2 separate regions of the Homo sapiens genome follow, and region 2 is linked to region 1. A link means that fine-mapping ties the variant in region 1 to the expression of a gene that starts in the linked region. Tissue or cell type: whole blood. Region 1 holds a variant in brackets; the other region holds the start of a gene. All regions are shown on one strand. Distances are between the middles of the regions.

Region 1 (8,000 bases):
CCCTCGTCCTGGGACCCAGCCCCGCCCCATGTCTAACTCAGGTCGCCCACCTTCCCCACAGGTGAGTCCAGTGAGCCGACAGTCCATAAGAAACTCCCAGAAGCACAGCCCCACTTCAGAGCCCACCCCCCCGGGGGATGCCCTACCACCAGTCAGCTCCCCACATACTCACAGGTAAGCCCCCCTCAAAGTGAGGGAGCATGAAAGTGAAACCCTTCAGAACCTACAGTCTCTAAAAACATATGGGTACGCTGCCACCAGGTGGTGGCAAGTGCATTGTTCAAGTGGTTTAAAATACTTTTCCAGATTTGAAGCGGTTTTCATTTCAACTGCATGATATATAATTAAAGGAAACATTTCAAAAGTCATGCACAAATTCTCTACCCTAATATATCAGCTTTTTCTGTGCATCCACATGTATGTTTTAGAACCAAGGTTAGAAACTACTAAACCACTGAACTTGAGTGGTTTCACCAAACACTGGCACCCTGTTGGGGCTGTTGGGACTGATTCAGGCCCAACCTCTGGTAGAGCCAAAAGAGGAGACTGGGGTTCTGGGCTAGTGAAGCCTCTCCCCTCCTCCCACCCCCAGCCCCACCTGTTTCCAAAGAGGACAAAGAACAAGCCTATGGCACTAGGGGAGTCCCGTCTTTCCTTGCCTCTCCTCTTCCCTTCTGTGCTCATTCCTGGTCCAATCTGCATGGGAAGCCCCTGACCCTCCCACACCCCAGGATTCAATTTTGGGGTAAAGAGGGGCCAGCAATCCATCTTCTAAGCAAGCATGGCCTCCCCTCACCCACAGTGTCAGCCTGGCTCCCGTGGTCCCTGGCCTAGGACCACACTTAAAAACATTTCCACCCTTTGACTTCAGCTCCTGGTCTGTCCACCCTGGCCATGTCCTGACAGTCCATGGCCACTTCATTTCCCTGAGCACCTGGACACGGGAGCTGCCCTGATGACCAGGGCCACACTGACCAGGATGGACGGCCTGGCCAGGTGACAGCCACAGGCCTGCTACATGCCAAAGCCAGGACCCCTCAGCCAGGGCCAGCCCCCCCGCGCTTTTGAGGTGCAGGTCCCACCCCACAGAGAGGAGCTTGAGACCCGTCCTCCACTGGACCATTTGGGCTGTGTTCAGTCCTCAGAGGGGCCACGGCTCTGAAGACATGCTGGCCCTCACTGGCCAGCTGCGGGGAGCTGTGACCCTGGCGTTTCCCAGGAACGCCCCTGGCTCTGGTTCCCCTGGGGTGCCGGACTGGAGACCCCTGAGGTGGCCTGGGATGGGCCAGCCTTGCTGTACCACAGGCCCCTGCGCCACGCCCACCTCCTGCCTGCCCCGCCTCCACGCAGGGCCCCAAAGCTCTGGGGCTGTCACAGTTTCCATTCCGGGCTGACGCTGCCTGCAGCCTCTCTCCACGGTGACCTCCAGAACAGAAAAGAGGCAGCCAGTCGTGCACCTGGGAAGCTGCTGCCCCCCAGCCACTGCCCAGGTCTCAGAGGAGACCCCCACCAGACTGGGCCTCAGCCCCTCCTGTTCCTCACAGGGGCTACCAGCCAACACCAGCCATGGCCAAGTACGTCAAGATCCTGTATGACTTCACAGCCCGAAATGCCAACGAGCTATCGGTGCTCAAGGATGAGGTCCTAGAGGTGAGGGGCTGGAGGACGGGGTCCAAGAGGGGGAAACAGGGCAGGGCTTCAAGGGAGGGGCTACCAGGGGAGGTGGGGAGCGGTCTAGGGCCAGGCTGGGTGATGCCAGGACGGGGCACAGCTGCTGGCCCCTTTCTCCAGGGTCCCCGCCCTTGGACTCTGATCAGGATCCCCAGCCTGTTGGAGGGGCCTTCCCATCTTGGGGCTCCCCAAAGGCATGCAGAGACCCCTGTGCCAGGCTGGGGGGAGCATCTGCACCACGTGGACTCAGCGGGGGCCTGTCATTCACACCCACCCAGGAGCCCCCACATCTGCACTGGCCGCATCTGCCAGCCGGAATCCAGGCCACCCACTGGGGGACAGAAAGTGGAGCAGGCTAGGGGGGAGTGGGCCACATCCACAGCCTGGCTCGGCGGCTCACGCCTGTAACCGCAGCACTGGGAGGCCAAGGCGGGAGGATCCCTTTAGCCCACGAGTTCGAGACAAGCCTGGGCAACACCTCAAAACCCCATCTCTACAAAAAACATAAAAATTATCTGGATGTGGTGGTGTGTGCCTGTGGTCCCAGCTACTCTGGAGGCTGAGGTGGGGGGATCGCCTGAACCCAGGAGGTCGAGGCTGCAGTGGGCAGTGATTGCACCACTGCATTCCAGCCTGGGCGGCAGAGTGAGACCCTGTCTCCGAGAAAAAAAGGGTCCCCCAGACTCCTTGAGGCAGGGTGGGGGAGGAGCAGCCCAGCGAGGGATGGAGGGGTGGAAACAGGGGTGCGGAGAGAATGGAGCGAAGCGGGGCTCCGGGAGACCCTAGGGCGCTCCCGACCTCTGTAAAGCGGCGCCAGCGGGTGGTCCCAGCCCCGCAGAGCCTGGGTGTGGGGAGGGGCTGACGGCGCGCCCCGCAGGTGCTGGAGGACGGCCGGCAGTGGTGGAAGCTGCGCAGCCGCAGCGGCCAGGCGGGGTACGTGCCCTGCAACATCCTAGGCGAGGCGCGACCGGAGGACGCCGGCGCCCCGTTCGAGCAGGTGAGCCCGCGGGGGTCCCTGGGGTCGCAGCCCCCAGCTTCCTGGAGCAGCCCCGCCTGCGCCTAGCCCCGCCCCAAGGCCAGCCCCGCGGCTGGAGAGACTGGGGCAGGTGCAGGGCTCCCTGGGCAGAAGGAAAGGGCTGGTCCGCAGGCCGGGGCTGTAGGGGGATTGGCGGGGTGGGGAGGTCCCGGGCAGGTGCTGGGAGGCGGGGGCGGGGCGTGGGGAGCCTAATCGCCCCCCGCCCCCGCAGGCCGGTCAGAAGTACTGGGGCCCCGCCAGCCCGACCCACAAGCTACCCCCAAGCTTCCCGGGGAACAAAGACGGTGAGAGCTGCTGCTTCGAGGCGGGGGTCCCGGGCCCAGGGCCACCTGGGGGAGGAAGTGTGGGGGGGGTCCCTGGGCCGGGGGCGGGGGCAGGGGCAAGGCAGCGGCGGGCCTGAGTCGCGCGCCCCCTCAGAGCTCATGCAGCACATGGACGAGGTCAACGACGAGCTCATCCGGAAAATCAGCAACATCAGGGCGCAGCCACAGAGGCACTTCCGCGTGGAGCGCAGCCAGCCCGTGAGCCAGCCGCTCACCTACGAGTCGGGTCCGGACGAGGTCCGCGCCTGGCTGGAAGCCAAGGCCTTCAGCCCGCGGTGAGCGGGGGCGGGGGATGAGCTGGGGCCCGGGCGAGGGGTGGGAGGTGCGGCCGAAGGTGCGCAGCTGTCGGGGCGGGCGCCAGGCAGCCTCGCTCACAGCGCGGCCCTGACGCCCAACTGCCCGCCCCCAGGATCGTGGAGAACCTGGGCATCCTGACCGGGCCGCAGCTCTTCTCCCTCAACAAGGAGGAGCTGAAGAAAGTGTGCGGCGAGGAGGGCGTCCGCGTGTACAGCCAGCTCACCATGCAGAAGGCCTTCCTGGAGGTGAGCCCGCCTGCGCTCCGGCGCCACGCCCCTCCTGCCCCTGCGCCCTCCTCTCCCCCGCCCGTTCCTGGGGTCGCAGAGCAAGGGGGAGGCCGGCACCCAGACACGTGGGACCCCCGGCTGAGGATGCCCCCATTTCTCCTCCCTAGAAGCAGCAAAGTGGGTCGGAGCTGGAAGAACTCATGAACAAGTTTCATTCCATGAATCAGAGGAGGGGGGAGGACAGCTAGGCCCAGCTGCCTTGGGCTGGGGCCTGCGGAGGGGAAGCCCACCCACAATGCATGGAGTATTATTTTTATATGTGTATGTATTTTGTATCAAGGACACGGAGGGGGTGTGGTGCTGGCTAGAGGTCCCTGCCCCTGTCTGGAGGCACAACGCCCATCCTTAGGCCAAACAGTACCCAAGGCCTCAGCCCACACCAAGACTAATCTCAGCCAAACCTGCTGCTTGGTGGTGCCAGCCCCTTGTCCACCTTCTCTTGAGGCCACAGAACTCCCTGGGGCTGGGGCCTCTTTCTCTGGCCTCCCCTGTGCACCTGGGGGGTCCTGGCCCCTGTGATGCTCCCCCATCCCCACCCACTTCTACATCCATCCACACCCCAGGGTGAGCTGGAGCTCCAGGCTGGCCAGGCTGAACCTCGCACACACGCAGAGTTCTGCTCCCTGAGGGGGGCCCGGGAGGGGCTCCAGCAGGAGGC[C/T]GTGGGTGCCATTCGGGGGAAAGTGGGGGAACGACACACACTTCACCTGCAAGGGCCGACAACGCAGGGGACACCGTGCCGGCTTCAGACACTCCCAGCGCCCACTCTTACAGGCCCAGGACTGGAGCTTTCTCTGGCCAAGTTTCAGGCCAATGATCCCCGCATGGTGTTGGGGGTGCTGGTGTGTCTTGGTGCCTGGACTTGAGTCTCACCCTACAGATGAGAGGTGGCTGAGGCACCAGGGCTAAGCAATTAAACCAGTTAAGTCTCCCAGGAGCCGTGTGTCTCAGTTCTCTGGGAGTCGGAGTGGGTCCTGGAGCCCCCGGAAACTGCACCTTTTCTAAGCAGTGCCGGGCAGAGGGCTGGCCGTCCGCCAGGCTGCTCTGCCCCTGAGCCCAGAGGGGACCCTGCCCACTTCTCTTCCTGTGGCCCTCCCAGGCCCAGCGACCAGAAGGCCCAAAGCGTGTCATCCAAGCCCGGCTTTCGCTGGGCACAACCCTAGTGGGAGCGGTGGGGACAGAGCCAGCTCGGCCAGACGGTCGGCAGGCCCCAGGAGGGCCATGAGTCAGAGGGCAAGGCTGAAACTGGATTTGGAGATCTTAGCCCAGGCTGACGGAGGCTCCCAAGAAGGGGGAGCAGGCCACACTCAGCACCCTGCGTGGGAGGGGCACCTGACCGCCAGATGGGCGGTCCACCTGAGCCGCACCCTTGGAGGGGCCTTTGGTGCCCTCTGCCGGCCGCTCCATGTGCTGCCGTGAGTGGCCGCCAGGGGTGCCCTCGCCCTGGATTGGTGGCAGGGGGCAACCCACAACCATGTGTCCCCATAGCAGCCGTGAACCCAACCCTGGTGCGGAGCATCCGGGGACACAGTCCTGGGGTCTTGGCCTGGGCAGGGGCGACTGTGGGGCTGGGCTGGGGGGGGCGTGTCCCTTGCCTGGTCCACCACCCAGCCAGGCCTGGACACCAGGCCACAGAAGCCCTGACTCACAGCTCAGGCCACACTAGGCCAAGTCTTAACCACAGTGTCTGGTCGGGGCAGCAGGGATTGTCTGGTGCCCTCTGAGCCACGACCCGGGCTTGATGGCCACCACCACTCCTCCAGGCCCCCGGAAGAGGCCCCCCCACCCTGTCAGATGGACCCTGCAGTGAGAGAGACAGGTCCAAGAGGAAAAGGGGAGGGATGGGGGCACCGGCCCTCCTCCCTGCAACCTGCAGCTCCCGCTGCCTGCTGAGCCACCACCTCAGGACGGGGATAGGCACCGGGGCTATATCTGCTCCAAAAGGGGCCTCTGTGGGCCCCAGGATGCCAGTCCTTGGAAGTGAGGGAGGCTGCCCACTCCCCAACCACTCCCAGCAACAGGACCCTTCCTCCACCAGGATGGTCTGGGCTTCATATGCAGCCTCCAGGCTGGGCTGCTCAGCTTCTGAGGGCCCCAGATCTACACCTGCTTCTTCAGCCTTCTCCCTGTCCACCTCCCCCAGCCCCATTTAGAGCCCCCTACCTGCTGTGCCCCACTCTGCCACCTGCACAGCTGAGGAGCCCCAGGAAGCCAGACCCCCAGACTCCAGCCCCCAGATCCCAGCCCTAGGCCCCAAGCAGGCTCCCACCCCAGGAGCCCTGAGTCCGAGGCACCCTGGCCCCAGCTGCCTGCTCGGACCTCTGGGCTTCCAGAAATTACCTCCCGTTTCTTCCAAGGGGCTTCCTGCCACCTCCTGAGACCCCCCTCAAGAGCAGATGGGACCACCGACCTCACCGGCCTGGTGATGGGCACAGGGTCACCTGGCATCGGGTGGGCTGGCTCTCTGTGTCCTCTCTGGCCACCCGCCCCAGGGGTGAGGATTGCCCCCCTTCCTGCCCTGAGGGCATCACTCTTGGGGGCCTGTGGTGTTTTGAGTGCTGCCCGCGGCCTCCGGAGGCCCCAGTGGCAGCCCCGTGAGGCAGGCGTGGATAAGAATGACCCGTAGAGGGGCCAGGTCACCTGCTCGAGGCCCGAGTTTGGGGCAGGGGCTGGGGTTAACATGCAATCTCTCTTAGTTCCAACGTGTCCTTAACCACTCACTCCCTCCCCGGCCTCCCTACCCACTTCCCCATCAGGCAGGTCCACAGAAAGAAGGAGGGTCTGCTGGTGCTGGCCCTGGTGGGGCCAGGGTTGCCGAGGGTCTGGCCGTGAGTGTGGGAGAGTCCACACTGGGCGAGGAGGGAGGGCGGGGCTTTGAACATCAGACCTCAGGGTGGGTGGCCTGAGCTGCCAGTGGGGCCACCAGTAGCCACAAGCAAATATCTCCACCAACAAGGCCCGTCTGTCTCGGGACAAGCATGTCTTTGTGGCGCTTGCTCCCCTTCTGTCCTCCCCCACAGCTGGCCCTGTCCGCCCGTGCCCAGTCAGGCCCCGCAGAACCCAAGAGGGGCTTCCCATGCCATTTAGGAAGGGCTGTCTCTTTAAAAAAAAAAAAAATTACAAAACGGTTGATTTCCCAAGAGGTTGACACAGCAGCACGTACAGTAAGATGTTCCTCACACCTGCGGGGATGCCATGGTCCCAGCCCGGGGCACCCGTTACCCAGGAAGGTGGTGAGAGTGGTGCTGGGAAAATGTGTGGAGAAACACAACAGGGACCCCCACTAACCCCACAAAGCTGAACCAGCCCCAGCAGTACTAGACGTCATGAGAGGCAAAACGACCAAGTTCACAGAAGATGCCAGGATATCCATGTGACAAAGGGGAAGAAGAATTTTCTGTACAAAACTTCAAAAGCAGTGGATACCAGGCGCGGCAGCTCACGCCTGTAATCCCAGCACTTTGGAAGGCCGAGGCAGGTGGATCACCTGAGGTCAGGAGTTCGAGACTAGCCTGGCCAACATGGTGAAACCCCATCTCTACTAAAAATACAAAAATTAGCCGGGCATGGTGGCGCGTGCCTGTAATCCCAGCTACTTGGGAGGTTGAGGGAGGAGACTCACTTGAACCCAGGGGGCAGAGGTTGCAGTGAACCAAAATCATGCCACTTCACTCCAGCAAAAGAGCAAAACTCTGTTTCAAAAATAAAATAATGAAAATTTTAAAAAGGGAGTCAATGAGTTTGATTTTGGCAAAATTAAAGACTTGCAGCCGGGCGCAGTAGCTCACACCTGTAATCCCAGCACTTTGGGAGGCCAAGGCAAAAGGATAGCTTGAGCCCAGGGGTTCGAGACCAGCCTGGGCAAATGGCTAGACCCTGTCTCTACAAAAAAAAATTATTAGGCCGGGCACGGTGGCTCATGCCTGTTATCCCAGCACTTTGGGAGGCCAAGGTGGGCAGATCACGAGGTCAGGAGATTGAGACTATCCTGGCTAACACGGCGAAACCTCGTCTCTACTAAAAGTACAAAAAATTAGCTGGGCATGGTGGCGGGCACCTGTAGTCCCAGCTACTGAGGAGGCTGAGGCACGAGAATTGCTTGAACCTGGGAGGCAGAGGTTGCAGTCAGCAGAGATCACGCCACTGCGTGAGCAGAGATCATGCCACTGCACTCCAGCCTGGGCAACAGAGAGAGACTCTGTCTCAAAAAAAAGAAAAGAAAAGAAAAAAAGTTATTAAATTAGCCAGGCGTGCTGGTGAGTGCCTGTGGTCTCACTGCCTGTGCTACTCGGGAGGCTGAGTGGGGAGGATCCCTCGAGCCTGGGAGGCAGAGGTTGCAGTGAGCTGAGATGGCACCACTGCATTCCAGCCTGGGCGACACAGTGAGAT
Region 2 (8,000 bases), 20 kb before region 1:
CCTTCCCTCCCCTTTGCTCTGTTCTCCAGGCACCAGGGGCAACCTGACAGAGGCTGAGAGGCCGCTGGCCGCCAGCCTGGCCCTCACGGCTGGCACCGCCCTCCTCTCTGCCCACTTCCTGCTTTGGCAGGCCCTAGTGTTGTGGGCGGACTGGGCCCTCAGCGCCACGCTCCTGGCCCTTCACGGCCTGGAGGCCGTCCTGCAGGTGGTTGCCATCGCGGCCTTCACCAGGTAGCTACGGACACCCGGGATACCCCACACTGGGGCCCTCCTCCTGGGCCTGACCAGTCCCCCAGCTGTCACCTCCCCATTCCTGGACAGGAAGGGCACTTTTCCTAGTGACTGGCCATAGATGGTTTTGGATGGTTCCATCTGTTCTGGCAGGAGTGGGAGCAGGAGCCAGGGCAGAACAAACTGCTGGAGGCCCTGGTGTTGGGAACAGCTGCGGGGAGGGTAGGGACCAGACAGAACTGCCTTCAAGATGAGTCCCAGGAGCGCACACTCAGCCCTGTCAGTGGGGTCTGGCTTTAGCAGCCAGGCCTCCACAGACCCCCATGGGCCCCCAGGGCCGAGAGGGAGGACAGAGCCCTTCAGAACAGAGGCCTCATCTCACTGCATCCCCCATCACCCCCTAGTTCCCCAATGGTCCTAATTTGTGTTCTGAGATCCCAGTTTACTCCGTGGCCAGGCCCCACCTGTGTTTCCAAGTCGGGCTGGAGACGCAGGATGGGGTAGGCCTTGTGCTCTGAGCAACCCCAGCTCTGCCTCACAGGCAGGCAGGCCCGGTGCAAGAGTGGACTCTGGGTTCCTAAAGCAATAAATGCAAACAAGCCAACAGCTCTGCTGCCTAGCAATTTCCATCTTAGCCACACTTCTCCCTTCAGGGGCTTCGGAGGAGAGGTCAGGGCTAAGGCCGGGGATGAGACTGCAGGAGAGAGAGCAGCGGAGGGCCACATTCGGAGCCTCCGTCCACTCCAGTTTTATCAGCTTTTGCCTTTTGCACGGAGTGCTAAACAAATTCTAGCTCTGTGTTTTTTTCCCATTCCCAGATTTACTATCAGTTCTCCTTAAAAAGTATCTAAGCTGTTACAGTAGCTTTCCCTTCACTTGATTCTATTGTGTGTTTTCTATGTTTGGAATAATTACACCCAAATATCTAGATATTTTCTCTTCACCGCATTTTGTAAATAAAGAGATGTGTATGCCTCCCTGAATTCTCCTAATTATGGCCACCTCCCCCACCCCATCTCCAGTTCTCCTGCCCTGCAAGAGAGCACACCCCACTTGCCAGCTGGTCAGTTCCTGGCTGGCCTCGCCCTCGGGCCCTGGCTGCCGGGCGCCTTCCGCTCGGTGGACTCCTGAGGGCAGGAGGCTGCGGGACTGTCCTGGGCCTCCACTGGGGCTCCCTCGGCTGGGGTGGCTGTGGCTGTGGCACCTGGACAGTCTTTCCTGCCTGTCTTCGTGGAAGCGGTGGGAGCACCCAGTTGTCCTGGGCCGACTTCCTTTGACCTGTCTGTGGCCCCCAGTGGCCACGGTGAGCTGCAGGACAGCCCTGAGGACCCACTTCACACACCAGCGCCTGAGCGCCTCGGGCCACCTCCCTCACCAGCGCCTGCACTCGCAGAAGACCAGCTGGGCACACCTGCCATCTGGAGGACCCAGCCCACAAACCATGCAGACCAGGGAAGGACCCCCTCCCTGAAGCTGGAGACCTGTTGCCTTCATGGTTAATGGATCCTGATACCTCCAGTCTCAGCGAGCACACAAAGGCAGTGGTCACCTGTTCCACAGGGAACGCCATGGCTCCAGGTGACCCGGAGTGGATGGGGCCCGAGAGGCCAGCCTGGACTGTCTCCTGAGGGCAGGCTCCGCACTCAAAATCGTGTTGACAGGCACCCGTTTAGGAGTGGAGAGGGACCCCACCCCCCAGCTGTCCTCTCCAGCGCCTGTTTCCCACTTGGCCACTCCCAGCTCTGCCTCCAGGAAGGGTGAGGGCACGGGTGCACCGAGGGGTTGGCGTGTGTGACCCTGAGCTCTGGGTCAGGGCAAGCTCATGCATGGAGCAGGATCACGGCAGGTTCCTGGAGATCAAACGGCAAAGGCTGTAAACCAGGAAGCCAGGTCTTGCCTGGGCTCAGGGGCAGGCACTGGGCCCGAAGGAGGAGGGCCACTTCCTGCCAGCCCTCCACCGAGCTCACCTATGGCGCCTCCCCAGGAAGTGCTCCGGCCAGCCCAGGGTAAACACGCTAGCCCTGCCCCTCTGGGACCATAGCCCGGGGACCCAGACTCTTGGCCACGCTCATTCCCACCCCTACCCAGGACCGGCAGCCGGAGCCTTGGGTCCCTGCATGGGCCTGGGGCGCCCTGTGCCCCTTCACCTCGTCCTCGTCCAGTTGACTGCTGTGGCAGCCGGTGCTACCCGCTGTGTCCACTGCACCCTGGCCCTGTTCTGAGCGGTCACAGCAGCTGGGGAGAAGGGCCATCCTGGAAGCCGGGCAGATGAGGACGGAACCAGACAGTCCCACTGTGGTGGGCAGAGGTGGGGCCTGGGCCTGACCACGGGGCAGTGCAAGGAGAGAGGCATCCTGAGAGGGCCTGAGGTGTCCCCACCTCCCCTGACACCCCATCCCTCAGTGCCCAGGCTGGGCAGAAAGGGGGGCCTGGAGGAGCAGCTGCACTGTGAACTCAGGGCTCCAGGCCTGGGGTGGGCATGGCTGGGTCCTGCCTGACACCCACCCACTCACCGAAGCCTCTGCCCCTGGGCCTGCGGTGGGCCCGGTAAGGGAAGTGACTCTGCCCCATGCCTGGGGCACCTGAGGGGTGCACCTGGCCCGGCGGAGGCTCTGACCTCCCCAGGGCTGGAGCCCTCCCCAGCAATGCGCCAGCGCTGCCCCCGAAGTCCCATTGGCAGCGTTCCCCCGTCCCCCGGCCTGCTGGGGCGCAGCTAGGCCCTGCCCAAGGAAGAGCTCGAGGCCTCGCCCTGCTCATCCCGCGGAGGCGGCCCTGCGCCCCGCCTGTCCCCAGCGCCCCAGCTCTAGGGGCTAGGCCCGCGGAGGGGCACACCAGGCGGGTGTTGGGGAGGACGCAGAGGGCTGGGGCTGGAGCCCAGGCGGGGCAGGGGGCGGGGCGGAGCTGGGTCCGAGGCCGGCGGGGGCGCCTCCATCCCACGCCCTCCTCCCCCGCGCGCCCGCCCGCTCTCGGGTGACTCCGCAACCTGTCGCTCAGGTTCCTCCTCTCCCGGCCCCGCCCCGGCCCGGCCCCGCCGAGCGTCCCACCCGCCCGCGGGAGACCTGGCGCCCCGGCCGAGGCGCGAACAGACGGACGCACCGGCGAGCGCCGAGGGGACAGGCCGAGCGCGGGGCGCCGGAGGCAGGTGAGCGCTGCGGACACGGGGGAGCGCGCCCGCCCGGGCCTCAGTTTACCCGGTGGCGATGGGACGCGGGGCTTCTGGTTCAGGACACCGGGACGAACGCGGCGTCGCAGGGCGCGGGGCACTTGGAGGGCGGCCGGGCCGAGGGCGCGGGGCAAGGGGCTGGGGGCCTGGTCGAGTCCCCACCTCTCCTGGACGGGTCCTGCTGCAGCCCGGCCTGCCCCCGTCGGTCCTGGGCGGCGGCCGGCGAGCAAGGATATTTTTAAGCCAGCGATGGGTGACTCACCTGCCCCGTCCTGCCCACTCCCAGCTCTGGGGCTTGGTGGGGGCAATCCCTGCGTCCGGAGAGCGCTGGTGGTAGGGAGGCTTCTCCCGGTTCTGTGAGCAGCAGGACCCTCCCGAGGGCCTGACCGTGGAGGTAGCACTGCACACCCACTCCCTGTGGGCCGGAGCCAGGAGGCACTTCCTGGGTGTCGGAGCCCAGAAGGAAACCAGTGGCCGGGAAGCACCAGCTGGGTCAGTCTCCAGGTCAGGGTTGGGGGTGGGAGTTTCAGGGAGGAGGGGAGGCTGGGACAGGGGCTGCAGAGGCCCTGCCAGGAGAGGCAGGAGGGTGGGCTGGCAGGAGCCTGTGGGCACGCGAACTTCAGCCATCCTAGATTCCTGGTCCCTGCGTCCAGCTGCCTGGCGTTGCCCCTTGCTGCGGGGTGTCCCTGGTGGCAGGGGAGGGGGAGGCAGGGCCGGGCATGCCCGGACCTCTGCCCCCACCCACCCCGTGCTCAGTCCTGGGTCGGCTGTGCTGGGAGGCAGGCCCAGCTGGCGGCGGCCCCTCCCCTCGCGGCCCCTCCTCCCCTCGCGGCCCCTCCTGGGTCCCAGCCTCTCCCGGGCCTGCTTAGCACCCAGGCCTTGTTGGCATAGCTCTCCCACCGGGCCTTCTCCGCCTGCCTCGGTCTCCTTTCCCACCCTCAGCTTCCCCAGCTTATCCCTTCCTCCCTCAAGCCATAGCTTCCAAACAAGGACAGGGCCAGGGCCTGAGGGGCCTCCCCATTCCAGGGCCCCACCCAGCGCCTATGAGGGCAGCCTGGAGCCCCTGTGACTCAGCTGACCCCTCCCCAAGGTCACTCAGCATGTGGAGCTGGAACTTGAACTTGGAGCCCGTCCCTCTACCCTCCTGCCCTGCTGGGACCTCCTCCCCTCCACAGCCCGACTGACCGGGCACCCCGCTCTGCCTCACTTCACACCGGGAAAATGACCACAGTACAAAGTGCAGCCTGGGCCTCCAGGGCTTCGTCCCCACCACCAGTGGGCCAAAGAAGCCTCCCCAGGGGGGCGGGGCTCCCACAGGGCAGGAGGCAGCCCCATACCCATGTGCTTCAGACCCAGACACCACACCTGGACCCACCCCACTGCTGCCCGGCCCTGCCTGGGCCTGAGGTCCCCGATGCCCTGCAGGCAACCGAAGGCCAGGAACCTGGCCTTCCCCAGGGGGGTCGCGTGTCACAGCCCTCCATGTTTGCGTGCCCCCAGGCCTGAGTCTGCAAGGGTGCGTTGGTGTCTCGCCCAGGTGTGTGCCTGGACACACGTGCCTGGCGCCCTTGGTGGAGCCCGCCAGGAATCCCATTAAGCAAACACTCAGGCTCGCCACTGAGCCCGTGAACATTCCAGACATTCTCCACGGATAGATGGATGGAGGAAGTGGCCATACCCCCTGGTGCACCCAGCCCCTCATGTCAGCGGCAGTGCCCCCGGGCCTCCCAGACCCTCCCACTAGGCCAGACCTGGTCAAACCAGAAAGTCCCGGGTGCTCCGAGCCACTCCCTTGACCCTCCATACCAACAGCAGTGGCTGGTGACCCCCACCGTGGCAGACCCAAACTCTGAAGCCACAGGGGACAGCCCTGCAGCCCTGGCAGGAGGCAGATGGTGTGGACCTGTGGGGAGCTGATCACAGAGCCACAGAACAGCCAGGTCCCCACAGGGCATAGTCCCCTTGGGACAAGTCAGCCTGGTTCAGGGCCATCAGGCTCTGTCCATCCCCCCGGGAAGCCCCTAGGGTCCAGCCCAAATCAGACCCACCTGTCTGCCCTGGCGGCTGGGCCTTAGTTTCCCCAAAATGCTCGGGGAAGAGGTCAGCACTAGGAGCCCAGAGACAGGCTCTGAGGATTCTGCCCCTGGGGGAGGCCAGAGGCACCTGCCCCATAGCCACCCTACCTCGTTGGAGGGGCAGTGATACTGTGTGTTGGGGCCACTGGACTGGCTCCCAGTCTCAGCCCCCACCACACCTGCCCTCCAGTCCCTCCCCTAGGCTTGGCTGCTGCCAGGGGTTCTGCGCTGGCCACCTGGCCGCATCCCTGCCCTCGAGGTGAGGAAACACTGCACCCCGGGGACCCCAGGGTTTCCTGCCCGCACAGCCTCTTCCCTGCCAGGTCTCCCAGGCCCAGGAAAGAGCCAAGGGCCAGCCTCTTTGCTGGGGCCTGGACAGAGGTGGCATGTGTGGGTGGCAAGTCCACATGTGGGTGCAGGAGCCCCTTGGGGTGCAGGCCTGGGGTGGGGCAGGAGTGGCGGCTAGAGCCGGGCTCCCTCTGGACTTCAGGACCTACCCCAACTCCAGCCTCACCTCTCCTGCCATCCTGCAGCTCCCACCCGCCCTCCCCCAACCCCCACCGCACCCCCCTCCCCCCACACTCCCACCTCATCCCCCTCCCCTTACCCATCCCACCCCCCTCCCCACAGCACCAGGGCCTTAAACTCCATGCTGCCCAGCTTGGAAGGCGCCTTCTGCCCCCAGGGCCCTTGTCAGAGCCTCCCAGTCAGCCTCTGGGGGGTCCCTGTGGAGCACCTAGGGTCTGAGGCATGACGAGGCTGATCGACTGTCAACTGGGACGTGGGGCCAACTGGGACGTGGGGCCAACTGGGATGTCGGGCAGGGGCTCTGCCCCCCAAGGGACCCCCACCCAGGCCAGGCCAGTCAGGGATCTGGCCCAGGGAAGGAGGGGAGGAACCAGCCAGGCCGGAGGAAGTGTCAGCGCAGCCCTTCTGTCCACCCAGGTGTGGGACAGGCACTGGCCTCAGACCGGGGCCACACTGAGGTCTGCCCTTCTCCCGCTGGCCGCCACCCAAGACACCATGAGCCAGTCCGGGGCCGTGAGCTGCTGCCCGGGTGCCACCAAGTGAGCCCTCCCACCCATCCCGAATACCCCACCCTCACCCTCTGAACAGTCCCCAGGGAGGGGTGCAGTTTGGCCCTGCCCTGACAGCCCCTCCCCTGCAGTGGCAGCCTGGGCCGGTCCGACGGTGTGGCCAAGATGAGCCCCAAGGACCTGTTTGGTGAGTGAGGTTTGAGAACGGGCTGGACGTCACAGGGGAGAAATGGGCACTGCATCCAGGTGGGGGACAGCTGCTCCTGCCCCACAGCTGTGCCTGGTCTGGCCCAGGGGATCTCCGGGTGCCCAGGGAGGCCTCTGGACCCTAATCAACCTTCCGAAAGCTCCTGGCCACTGGATCCCCTCCCCCACACCCGTAAGGGGAGAGGCCTTTACTAATAATTCAGGGAGCATCAATATTGATTCCGCTGCACTCATTGCTGTAACCTGATCACAGCGAGGTTCAGGCAGGATAAGCCGCCAGGTGTCTGCTCCAGGAGGGGGGCCTGGCCAGCCCCCACCTCCCCCCACTCTGCCCTTCCCCAGAGACGACCCTGCCCTCTCGCTAGCTAGATGCACCCTTCACTTATGTCTTTGGACAAGGTGCCTAGTCTGGAAAGCGAGAAGACCTGGGAGGGCAGGGAGAGTGAAGCTGGCAGCTCTCAGAGTGGGAAGAAGCCGGGCTGGGACCCCCTTCCTGTCCCCTCACCCTCCGGGACAGAAACCCCCCGGGCACAGGCTGCTGGTCCCCACTCCACTCAGAGCAAGCCCATCGCCTTCTCCGAGCTGCGTCCTTCTCCAAGGGGGCTTCCCTGGAGGGAGGGAGGGGGCTTCCTGCAGGTCCTGATTTCACACCCACATCCTTCCTGGTGGCCAAGAGGTCCACGGAGCAGCCTCCCTCCGCTTGACTCCACCTTCCCTTGTGGGTCCAGTCCCAACTGGACGGGAGGCTGTGGGTCCTGCCCGTCGGGGGAGTGACTGGTGTCTCCCGGTTCAGAGCAGAGGAAGAAGTATTCCAACTCCAACGTCATCATGCACGAGACCTCGCAGTACCACGTCCAGGTAAGGCCCCGCCCCCAGGTAGGCTCCGCCCCCAGGGAGCACCCTCAGGACATGGCTGTCCTCAGGTTCTCGTCTCCACAAAAAATAAAATAATTAGACGGGCATGGTGGTGCCGGCCTGTAGGCCCTGCTACTGGGGAGGCTGAGGCGAGGGGGTCACTTGAGCCCGGGAGGCGGAGGCTGTAGTGAGCCAAGATCGCACCACTGCACTCCAGCCTGGGCACCTGGGTGACAGAGCTAGACCCTGTCTCAAAACGAAAGAGAGAAAGAGAGAAAGAGAGAAAGGGAGGAAGGGAGGAAGGGAGGAAAGCTCCAGGGAGAGTGGTCAGCCCAGCTTCTGACACCCACGGGGCCGGGGGAGGCCAGAGCCAGAACTGCCCACACTGTCCCGGGCTCAGCCACGGGGCCGGGGAAAGCGCCCCTCTGGTTC

The links. PIP is the estimated chance that this variant, and not a neighbour inherited with it, causes the effect.
Region 2: it holds the start of EPS8L2, and the variant in region 1 is fine-mapped to the expression of EPS8L2 in whole blood (TOPMed, PIP 0.94).

Annotation. Positions count from the first base shown.
Region 1 is chr11:723,180-731,179 of GRCh38, forward strand. EPS8L2 (EPS8 signaling adaptor L2) reads left to right here. Exons shown (of 21, transcript NM_022772.4): 15 at 62-174; 16 at 1,545-1,650; 17 at 2,549-2,668; 18 at 2,919-2,991; 19 at 3,125-3,305; 20 at 3,440-3,572; 21 at 3,722-4,548. The coding sequence ends at 3,802. Among named protein-coding and RNA genes, the nearest start is that of TALDO1, 20 kb to the right of the region's middle. The variant C/T (reference allele first, on the strand shown) is at 4,273.
Region 2 is chr11:702,916-710,915 of GRCh38, forward strand. It overlaps EPS8L2 (EPS8 signaling adaptor L2), which reads left to right and starts at 3,316. Exons shown (of 21, transcript NM_022772.4): 1 at 3,316-3,373; 2 at 6,415-6,536; 3 at 6,638-6,693; 4 at 7,507-7,571. The coding sequence starts at 6,493. It overlaps TMEM80 (transmembrane protein 80), which reads left to right. Exons shown (of 5, transcript NM_001042463.3): 5 at 30-1,214. The coding sequence ends at 235. It also overlaps a transcript of DEAF1 not described here.